Linked DNA regions of Homo sapiens. The protein of the gene in region 1 interacts with the protein of each later gene in a pairwise test. Each region holds a gene or a part of one and is shown in the gene's direction. Other genes may lie near its edges.

Evidence for each region.
Region 2: the proteins of MAPKBP1 (region 1) and KRTAP9-2 interact in binary tests that used the Homo sapiens proteins (3 or more experiments, as listed by UniProt).
Region 3: the proteins of MAPKBP1 (region 1) and KPRP interact in binary tests that used the Homo sapiens proteins (3 or more experiments, as listed by UniProt).

The regions. Positions count from the first base shown.
Region 1 is NC_000015.10:41,819,345-41,823,094, forward strand, and holds part of MAPKBP1 (mitogen-activated protein kinase-binding protein 1), read left to right. Parts: coding exon 1-35; intron 36-250; coding exon 251-306; intron 307-1,487; coding exon 1,488-1,724; intron 1,725-2,239; coding exon 2,240-2,406; intron 2,407-2,620; coding exon 2,621-2,766; intron 2,767-2,880; coding exon 2,881-3,078; intron 3,079-3,248; coding exon 3,249-3,333; intron 3,334-3,594; coding exon 3,595-3,750. UniProt on the Homo sapiens protein: Negative regulator of NOD2 function. It down-regulates NOD2-induced processes such as activation of NF-kappa-B signaling, IL8 secretion and antibacterial response. Involved in JNK signaling pathway.
Region 2 is NC_000017.11:41,224,812-41,228,152, forward strand, and holds KRTAP9-2 (keratin-associated protein 9-2), read left to right. Parts: upstream 1-1,836; 5' UTR 1,837-1,843; coding exon 1,844-2,368; 3' UTR 2,369-2,841; downstream 2,842-3,341. UniProt on the Homo sapiens protein: In the hair cortex, hair keratin intermediate filaments are embedded in an interfilamentous matrix, consisting of hair keratin-associated proteins (KRTAP), which are essential for the formation of a rigid and resistant hair shaft through their extensive disulfide bond cross-linking with abundant cysteine residues of hair keratins.
Region 3 is NC_000001.11:152,756,301-152,760,050, forward strand, and holds the start of KPRP (keratinocyte proline-rich protein), read left to right. Parts: upstream 1-1,724; 5' UTR 1,725-1,759; intron 1,760-2,440; exon of another isoform or gene 2,441-2,511; intron 2,512-3,260; 5' UTR 3,261-3,288; coding exon 3,289-3,750.

The DNA.
Region 1 (3,750 bases):
GCCCGTCCTTGCCAAGAGTACCAAGAAGGCACTGGGTCTGTGGCAGTTGGGTGTGGGGGCAGACAGGCCCTAGTTGGTATAATGGCTAGATATGGTTTTTCTGAGACTGTGGGGTGAGAGCAGTGTGAGCTGAGGAAACTGAGGCATCACTGTGGCCACACAGGGTATGGGCTGATGGGGCCAGGGCTCCAGGGTTGGGTGGCGGGGGGGGGGCAGGAGACACTTCCTCTGACTGCCTGTTTCTGTCTAGCCTCGGTCCCCAGCCCAGCTTTGCCCCGAAGCCTGTCCCACTGGGAGATGAGTCGGGTGAGTCGCCATTGTTAAAATGTTCTTCCAAGGTTAGAGGAGGCAAAGGGAGCTGTGAGAACAGGGCTCTCTGGGCCTGGTAGGGTACTGGGGCATGGGGTCTGCCCACATGCTGCACTCGTGTGTCCAAGGAAGGCCTTGTCGGGGAAGTTGAAGCAGCTGGGCTGGTCCTGGGTGCGGGGGTGAAGAAAGCCCAGGTATTTCCTTCCTGTGGACCAGTTGGGGTGGATGGAGCACAGGGTTAGTCAGCACTGGGGAGGTGGGGCACTTGTTCAGCTGCCTGGTGCCTGGAAGTAAATATCATCAGAGAAGAGCTCAAGGTGGAGAGGACAAAGGACCCCTAAGCCAGATAGTTAGAACTAAAATGCAGGAAATCAAGGATCCAAAGAGCGGAGATCTGGAGAAACAGTTCTAAAGATCCCGGTTAGGAGGTAAGCGGAGAACTTCCAGAATAGTTAGAGGGAAAAGGCCATGAGGGGACCCATAACTCAGCGACTGCCCTGGGGTGGCCAAAGGGGGATCAAGGTGTTCAGAGCAAGTTCCCAAGCACCAGTACCTTCCGTTGTCAGCAACAGTTTCACAGAGTGATGATGCTGTGGTGTCTCTGGAGCACCCTGACCGGGCCAGGGGTCTCAGGCCTGGGCTATAGGTTTGTCCTTGGTGCTGTGAGGGGACTTTGGGGCCCCCAGCTATTGGAGTGATTGGGGTAGAGAGGCAAAAGGAGTGGTTGGGGTAGACAGGCAGAAGTGGCCTTTGCCCTGGGCTGGATTTCTTGGGGGACTCTTGGTAGTAAGTGGTTGCTGCTGGGGCTGTCCTCAGAGTAGGAGACTTTTAGAGACCCCCAGCTCTGAGGCATCCATGATACCAGGTGAAGGCTGAGACTAGGGGTTCCTGTGCCAGAGGATGCGGAATGCAGCTAAGAGCATGAACTCTGGAGCCAGACTAATCTGCAGGCCACTTACTGTCTGTGGGACGCAGACTGCTCACTTAAGCCCCCTGTGCTTCAGTCTCCTCATCTGTAAAACAAGGATTATACTAGTGCCCATTTCAAAAGGTTGCTGTGAGGATGAAGTAAGCTAGTATGTGTAGTGTGCCAGGCACATAGTAAGGGATATGTGGATATTTGTTGATCTTACTGTGTGGTTGTTGTTACTCCTCCCCCACCCCCTACCTCCCACCAGGCACAGGAGTCCGTGGGGTTCCTGGACCCAGCTCCTGCAGCCAACCCAGGACCCAGAAGAAGAGGGCGCTGGGTTCAGCCAGGTGTGGAACTGAGCGTTAGATCCATGCTGGATCTGCGGCAGCTGGAAACACTGGCCCCAAGCCTGCAGGACCCTAGCCAGGACTCGCTGGCCATCATCCCATCTGGTCCCAGGAAGCATGGGCAGGAGGCCCTTGAGACTTCACTCACTAGCCAGGTGAGCCTGCTTTCTCCCAGCTCTCTAGAGAGTTCCAAGGGGCCTTAGGCAGCCTTTGCCACCAGCTGGGACCTGAGCACTGGTCCAGCTATGCTTGCTCTGCCCCTGTGGCACATGGGTAACCTGAACTGCAAAGCCAGGATGGGGGTGGCTGGGCTGTATGGTTTGGTCATCAGGATAGGCAGGGGAGGGGTTGGGGTAGAGAGGCAAAAGTGGCCTTTGCCCTGGGCTGGGTTTCTTGGAGGACTCTTGGTATTAAGTGGTAGCTGGAGGTTGGCAGCCCAGAGTGCTAATATAGTTCATCCAGAAGCTCACATCAGCAACTGGAGCCCAGCCTGGCTTCTCGATGTCTGTCCTTCAGCTTCCCCTTGAATGAGTGCACACCGCATCCTTACTCACCTCCACCTCTTCTCCAAGGGGAGGGTTGGCCCCCAGGATACTCAGGGCTTACCCCCCAGCTACCACTGCCTCATCTGTCACCTCTGCTCTGTTAACATCCCTTTGTGTGTTCCCAGAATGAAAAGCCCCCTCGGCCTCAGGCTTCCCAACCTTGTTCCTATCCCCATATTATCCGATTATTGTCACAAGAGGAAGGGGTCTTTGCCCAAGATCTGGAACCTGCACCCATTGAAGATGGTATTGTCTACCCGGAGCCGAGTGACAACCCCACCATGGATACCAGGCAAGGATCCTGCCCTAGCCAGACCCCGTGCCCCCGTCTTCCCCTCCCTATGAGTGTTCTTTAGTCGAGGGAGGGTTGGCCCCCAGGATACTCAGGGCTTTCCTTCCAGCTCACCACTGCCTCATCCCTCACCCTGATCACAGGCAGGAGTCCAGCGGGGCTGCTGCCTACCCCTGCTCACTGCCTTTTCTTCTCCCTGCTGGAATCCTGACAGTGAGTTCCAAGTGCAGGCTCCAGCCCGGGGAACTCTGGGAAGAGTGTACCCAGGCAGCAGGAGCTCAGAAAAGCACAGCCCTGACAGTGCCTGCTCTGTGGATTACAGCAGCAGCTGCCTTTCCAGCCCGGAGCACCCCACTGAAGGTGAGGCTGTAGCCTGGAGGGAGGGGCCATGGGGGGTGGGGCCTGGAGGTGGGTGGGGAGGCTCTGGCAACAGATGGGTGCAGTGCGATGCCTCTCTCCCCTCCCCACACCCAGACTCTGAGAGCACGGAGCCCCTCAGTGTGGATGGCATCTCCTCAGACCTTGAAGAGCCAGCTGAGGGTGATGAAGAAGAGGAAGAAGAGGAGGGAGGCATGGGCCCCTATGGGCTACAGGAGGGCAGCCCCCAGACTCCAGACCAGGAGCAGTTTCTAAAACAGCACTTTGAGACTCTGGCCAGTGGAGCTGCTCCAGGTGTGGTCAGAGGGCCAGCATTTAGTGCCTGCAATTTGCCCTTCTCCCCTCCTTGCCTACCTGAGAGGAGGGTCCCAGGGTATAGGCTGTGGCTGGGGGTCTCAAGGAGGCAAAATCTGGGGCAAGGGCTTGGTTTTTGCCCCAATTCATGATTTCTCTGACCTTGGTAGGGGCCCCAGTGCAGGTCCCAGAGAGGTCAGAGTCTCGGAGTATCTCTTCACGATTCCTGTTGCAAGTACAGACCCGCCCACTCAGGTACAGAGGCCCCCTACCCCCCAGCAGCAGCTCTGGCTCTCCTCGCCTCCCAGGGCTGCTGCCCTCTCCTCTCCAGTGTTCTGTCTCTCCATGCGCGGGGTGTTTTGCACTCCCAGTTTTGGGCTAACTGGCCTTTCCCCAGCCCTATCTGGCTTTGTGCTTGTTCTCTCCTAGTGCCCTGGTGCTATGAGTTTCTCGCCATTTTGGCAGGGAGGAGCATTGAGCCTTCTCTGGGCCTTCTCCCACATGTTCTCCCTGTAGGGAACCATCCCCATCCTCCTCAAGCCTGGCACTGATGTCGAGACCAGCCCAGGTGCCACAGGCATCTGGTGAGCAGCCGAGAGGCAATGGTGCCAATCCCCCTGGAGCACCCCCGGAGGTGGAACCGTCCTCTGGCAACCCCAGCCCCCAGCAGGC
Region 2 (3,341 bases), on another chromosome or scaffold:
TGGGATAGTCTAGTGCCCCTGTTGAAAAAAGAACTGTTGATCCCCAAGCCCACACTCTGCAATAGAACTGCTAGAGTATTTCATGGGGCATGAAATTGCCTTTAGAAAAACCAATACAGGGGGTCACATCAAGGTCAAATTGGGCACAGAAGGGTAGGAATTTTGCTATATTCGGAATTTCTTTACTTAGAGAAGGTAGAGGAAATAGAGTAAGAATAGGAGAATATATTTTTGGAATGCAATGATAGTAAATATCCTAAACAAAATATAAGTAAATAAAATCCAATGGCATATACATATGATCGTAACCACATGAATTGTTTTCAGAAATGCAAGACTGGGCTAATATTTGAACATTAATCAACTTTTAAAATAACACATTTTGGGAAGCCGAGGCAGGTGGATCTCTTGAGGTCAGGAGTTTGCGATCAGCTGGCCAACATGGTGAAACTCTGTCTCTATTAAAAATACAAAAGTTAGCTGGGCATGGTGGTGTGCTCCCATAGTCCCAGCTACTCAGGAGGCTGAGGCAAGAGAATCTCTTGAACCCGGGAGGTGGAGATTGCAGTGAGCCAAGATTGTACCACTGCACTCCAGCCTGGGTGACGAAGCAAGACTCTGTCTCAAAAAACATAGAATAAAACAACACTTACTGAAAAGGTAGAATAATCATAACATTATTTCAGCTTATAAAGAAAAAGCATTTTGTAAATTTCAGTACATTTTCAGTTTTCTGTCTCTCAGAAAATAAGGAATAGAACAAGACCTGTTGCTATGATGAAATGAATCTACAAAAAAGACAGAAAGCATCGTAATTAATTGTGAAATACTGAGAGTTCTCCTTTCTATCCAACGAATATAAAAAGATATACACTACACCATTCTATTAGACATTGCCCTGGAGGGTCTACCCCTGGACAAGGGCCAAAAAAAAAGCAAGATTAAAAATACTCTTATAAAGCGAAGAAAACTATTACTATTTTTTATGAGTCATGACTGCACATGTGCAATTTTCTGTCACACCAAAAAAAAATACAAAAAGTATTAGAATTAACAAGCTAGGACCAGAACTCAGCTTGATTTGCCCGAATCTAGAGCACTTACGTCACAGAGAGTCCCATGCTGGTAAACCCTTCAGTCCCAGGCAAATCAGGGTAAATGGCAACACCATCACAGAGACACTCGATGCTTTCTGAATCCCAGTGGACTCCTTTTTCTACCCACCTGCTTTGGTCTAGCTCTGCATTTTGGAATACATTGTGCCAAACACCCTTTCCCTAGTGAGTGTAATAGAACTGGAAGACACAGGTGGAATAGTTTGTAGCGAGAAAGATGCTTGTTACTCTTGAATCAGACTTTTGTGGGTAAATAGGCTTGGTGCCGGGCACGGATTCAATGCATCACTGTGAACATAACAGCATCACGCGACTGCCCACAGACATTTCCCAGTCTACATACAGTCAACCATGAGGCTGGACAGAGAGAACTATCTGCTTCCCGGATCACCAGGAACTATCACATGACCAGATGATGGTCAGAGCAGGAATGATGCTGGTGATGAGACTGCCTTCCTTTTATCTGAAACAAAGTTTTTATGAGTAATTCTCAATTAAGAAACAGATTAAACCCTTACTTTCAAAAGATTCATAAGATTTCAGAAACAACTTCCCCTTTGACAATCGCAAAGGGAGTATGGAAAACAGTGTAAACAACAACAAGGAAAAGTCCTGCTGATTGGTGGAAACTTTGGAGGCCAGATGTATAAAAGGTCCAGATTGCAAGGGGTCATCAGATTCTGGGAAACTCACCTCTGAACAGAAGCCCACCCTCCACCCCTGACACCATGACCCACTGTTGCTCCCCTTGCTGTCAGCCTACCTGCTGCAGGACCACCTGCTGCAGGACCACCTGCTGGAAGCCCACCACTGTGACCACCTGCAGCAGCACACCCTGCTGCCAGCCCGCCTGCTGTGTGTCCAGCTGCTGCCAGCCTTGCTGCCGCCCAACTTGCTGTCAAAACACCTGCTGTAGGACCACCTGCTGCCAGCCCACCTGTGTGACCAGCTGCTGCCAGCCTTCCTGCTGCAGCACACCCTGCTGCCAGCCCACCTGCTGTGGGTCCAGCTGCTGTGGCCAAACCAGCTGTGGGTCCAGCTGTGGCCAGAGCAGCTCCTGTGCACCTGTGTACTGCAGAAGAACCTGCTACTACCCCACGACTGTCTGCCTGCCTGGTTGCCTAAACCAGAGCTGTGGCTCCAACTGCTGCCAGCCCTGCTGCCGCCCAGCCTGCTGTGAGACCACCTGCTGCAGGACCACTTGCTTCCAGCCCACCTGTGTGTCCAGCTGCTGCCAGCCTTCTTGCTGCTGATCACGTTCCAAGAGAACCACCATCCTCACACAACAAATTTCTGCTCAACTGACTCATCTTTTGGGGGACTAATTTAATTTGCTGCTGACAGCCACCATGCTCTCACCCAAATTTTTATGAATTCTCTACATGTTTAAAATCTTGGAAATCTGCTTGAGGGAGGGCAGAATACTTCATCCTGATTCTCTTTTTCCTTACACCTTGTGGATCATGTGCCAGCTTCATCTGTTCTCAAGTTTGAGTCATGGTCTCAGCTTTGACTCTAAAGTCAAGAGCTTCATTCCCTGCTTCTAAGGAATTTAGGTTTCTGCAACTGATCGATGATCTTTGCAATCTTTTTTTTGTTTTCAATATCCTCCTCATCGTTCTTGTATCCTTCTTTCTTCTTTTCATGATAAATTTGTGTTGTGTCCCTGGTAGCAGAAATCCTTACCTATATGTTTCTGAATAAATTCTGAACCATCCTCATCTCATATAGTGTTTTGTTTTATTTGAAAGCACTCCTGATATGGGATTTACACACATATCACATACCATAGTTATTATCCAATTTGATTCTCAAAACAGGTGGTCATGCATTATTACCTTCATTTTTCACCTGAAAAAAAATTAATATGTGATGTTATGTAGCTAATAAAGGACAGATTCTGATCCAAGCTGAGGTCCTCTCTTTCTGCCCAAGGACACTTACATTTAACTCTCAACATAGTAGAAATGACATTGGAAGTCAGCACTAGCAAGACATGCACTTGAGTTTATTTAACAATGAGAGAAATAATCTCTCATATTTGCAAATAATATTTTTATTCACAAAAAAATCCCAAATTATTTTTTCCCACACCTCAGTGAGCAACAGCTGCATGACATGGCAGCAGGGATTGCATTTAATGGCTGCCCTGAATGCAGGGATCTTTTTGTCTCAGCCTCTGACCAGCCAATCATTCAATTCATCCGCATCAAAAAGATGCTTGAG
Region 3 (3,750 bases), on another chromosome or scaffold:
TGTCGTAGTCCAAATGTGCCACTATAAAGGAGTATGTGAGGCCGGATAATTTAGAAAAGAAAAAAAAAAGAGGCTTATTGGGCTCACATTTCTGTAGGCTGAACAAGAAGCATGGCATCAGCATCGGCTTCTAGTGAGGGACTCAGGCCACCTCCACTCATGGTAGAAAGTGAAGGGGAGCAGGCTGTGCAGACATCACATGAAGAGAGAAGAAGCACGAGAGGGGTGAGGGAGGTGCCAGGCTCTTTTTAACAACCAGCTCTTGCAGGAACAAATAGAGAGAGACCTTAACCTCCACCCCTACCAGAGAGGGCATTAATCTATTCATGAGGTATCCTCCCCCATAACCCAAACTTCTGCTATTAGGCTCCATCTCCAACACTGGGGGTCAAATTTCAGCATGAGGTTTGGAAGGGATAAACACGCAAACTATAGCAATGCCCTATCTAAGGTGGGCAGCTGCTAATCAGGATAATGGAAGGTATGTTCAACTATGCTAGATCTTTTTATTTCAGAAGAAAATCTGAATTTCTGGAATCTTTAATAAAATCTGCCTATTTTTAAATACTAACAATTAATGACAGTATTATGAGGGAAAACATAAAGAGCTGTCCATTTTGACTCTATGTGGCTCACAGAGTACCAGATTATTATTTCTGCCCTGCACTGTGCTGCCTTTAAGGGCTACTCCACAGCACTACCTGCCTGGTGCTGCCTTCAAATACTGCTCTGCAGCATTGACTGAGCACCTGTTGTGCAGGCATCCACTTGCTCAGCTCAGGATGGGGAGGCAGCAGGCACCCATGACTCAGCAGTGCCTGTGGCTTATGGCCAGCATTTACCCTGAGTGGATTTGGGATAGTTTAAACATCATTCTTGGATGAATTTTTTTTTATTATACTTTAAGTTTTAGGGTACATATGCACAACGTGCAGGTTTGTTACATATGTATACACGTGCCATGTTGGTGTGCTGCACCCATTAACTCGTCATTTAGCATTAAGTATATCTCCTAATGCTATCCCTCCCCCCTCCCCCCACCCCACAACCGTCCCCAGTGTGTGATGTTCCCCTTCCTGTGTCCGTGTGTTCTCATTGTTCAATTCCCACCTATGAGTGAGAACACGCGGTGTTTGGTTTTTTGCCTTAATCCTCACAACAATCAGGAAGGAAGATTTAATTATCTCTCTTTTGCAGAAGAGTAATTTGATACTCAGATTGTTTATAAAGGTTGCATAGCTATAAGTACACGGCCTGGGATGTTAGACTCACCTTTGGCCCCATGGGCTCATCCTTCTATAGAGTTGCCTCTATCTTTGAAGTAACTTAAATTACTTCAGGTTAGAAAACACTTCCTCTTTTATGTCACTCTGGTAAGAATCTGAAGCAAAGTGGAAGTTGGCAGATACAATCATCTTTTAGGAGAGAAGATACCTTTGTCACTCCTCATCTCCCGACCATCAGGTCTTCTAGGGATGGAGGAGAAACTGTTAGGGCAATGAAGGAGGAAGAAAATAAGAATCTGCTATTCATAGTCCTGAGGCTTCAACACTAAGACAAGCCACTCCCACACTCTGTAGGTGACGGCAAGGGCAGGCACACAGGGAGGGAACCAGCTGCTGGAATGCCAGCCCGGTTGATGCACCAGGCGGATGCCAACCAGCTGTCTCATGGCCCAAGCCAGACCCAGAACCCTTTATATAAAGACAGCCCTCTTCCCAGATGCCTCAGCCTGAAGGACTGCTTGCCTGTGAGGAGGGTGAGTCTAGGAACTGGATCCTGGGATCGGGGTGGATGTGATGTTCAGGGGAGAGCCCAGGTTCACAGTCGTGAGGCACAAAGAAGGGAGAAGCTAGGCACCAGGGAGGGCGAGGGGTGCATTAACCTGAGGAGAAAAGTCTGGTGAGCTTTTAGGAGACAGAAGCATAGCTACAGAGTTTACGAGATGAGCTAGGGCTGTGAAGCTAGTGTATTTGCCTTTGATAACCCTGACCTTATCCTCAGGTACTATTTTCCCTCATGATCTTTCTGGAAAAGCCACATTAGCAATTTACACCTTATGAGCAAAGTTGTGTGTGGAAGGGTTACCTTCCCCAGGGAAATAGATATGTAGGTATTCTCTACAAATTGAAAATAGAAGGTTTGAACCCTCATCAGGAGCATTTGGGGAGCTTATTGAAAGACGGTTTGTTGGATGAGCCTGTTGTCAAATGATCTTGTTTTGCTGGTCAGTGGGCTGCCTGCACATAAACACGTGCATCTGACACAAGCAGACGAGTGAGGCTGCCCTGTGCTCTCCCCAGCTAAGCATGGTGTCAGGGTGTATGCCTGCAGCCCTCACGTTATGTTTGCAATGCCCCAGCTGCGTAGATCTTTAAGTATGGCAGAATGTCCGTCTTCTGATTAAGAACCTTGGACTTTCTGGCTTACTCCATCTTAGGTAACTCCACCTTGCCTCTAAGAAGAGCTGGGGAAAAACATTTCTGAGGCCTGCAGACTGTCACACTTCAGGTGATTAGCAACAGCAACCTGACTGGGCAAGTTGCCATGGTGGTCAGAGTCTTTCCAAGGCTGGTGTGTTTTGCATGGGCACACTTTGCACGTGTCATGTTTAAATGAATTTATTTCAAAACATTGTGTCATGTTTAAATGAATTTATTTCAAAACATTGTATCATGTTTAAATGAATTTATCTAAAAACATTGAATATAGAGAAACAAACATTTAATGTTGGGTTTGAGCTGCCCGCTTTCCAGTGAATGCTTTGACATTTTGTGAATGCAGATGGTGCTGAGTGCTTATTCTCATATGTACGTTCTTACATGTTTGCACATTTATGTGTACTGCCAGTGCACATGTGTGAGTAAATCCAAGCTCCTGTGGGAATGGAGTTTCCACTTTGGGCTATAGCCTTAGGAGCAAGTTGTTATCTCTACTTCCTGTAGGGCTGCTCAGACCACATTGGATGTGAGAAAGTGTGGAGACGAAAGGAGAATCCTTTTGTCATCAGTGCCCTCTTTTCTGGGCATTGGTAGGTCCACCCCCAGGGAGATCCTGGACATCTGCAACCCTGGATGTGCCCTTTGACAGACCCAGGGCAGGTCTAACAGATTAATCCTGGGTCGAACTAAGTCAGGACACTTGGATGAAAGTTGAGGGTGGAGGAAGAAAAGCTAGGGAAGATGCAGGGTGTCTTCCTCTAGGTCCTGGCACCCCCTCTCCAACTCTCACCCTCCTGACCCTGGTCTCTTTGCCCTCAGGTCACTCTTGACTGGCTGCATCAGGACCATGTGTGACCAGCAGCAGATCCAGTGCCGCCTGCCGCTCCAACAGTGCTGCGTCAAGGGTCCCTCCTTCTGCTCCTCTCAATCCCCCTTTGCCCAGAGCCAAGTGGTGGTTCAAGCCCCTTGTGAGATGCAAATTGTGGACTGCCCTGCATCATGCCCAGTTCAAGTTTGCCAGGTGTCAGACCAGGCTCCATGCCAGTCTCAGACCACACAGGTGAAGTGCCAGTCTAAGACCAAGCAGGTGAAGGGCCAGGCTCAATGTCAGTCTAAGACCACCCAGGTGAAGGGCCAGGCTGCATCCCAATCTCAAACTTCCTCTGTTCAAAGCCAGGCTCCATGCCAATCTGAGGTGTCCTACGTGCAGTGCGAAGCGTCACAACCTGTTCAGACTTGCTTCGTAGAATGTGCTCCAGTTTGTTATACAGAAACTTGTTATGTAGAATGCCCAGTCCAGAACTATGTA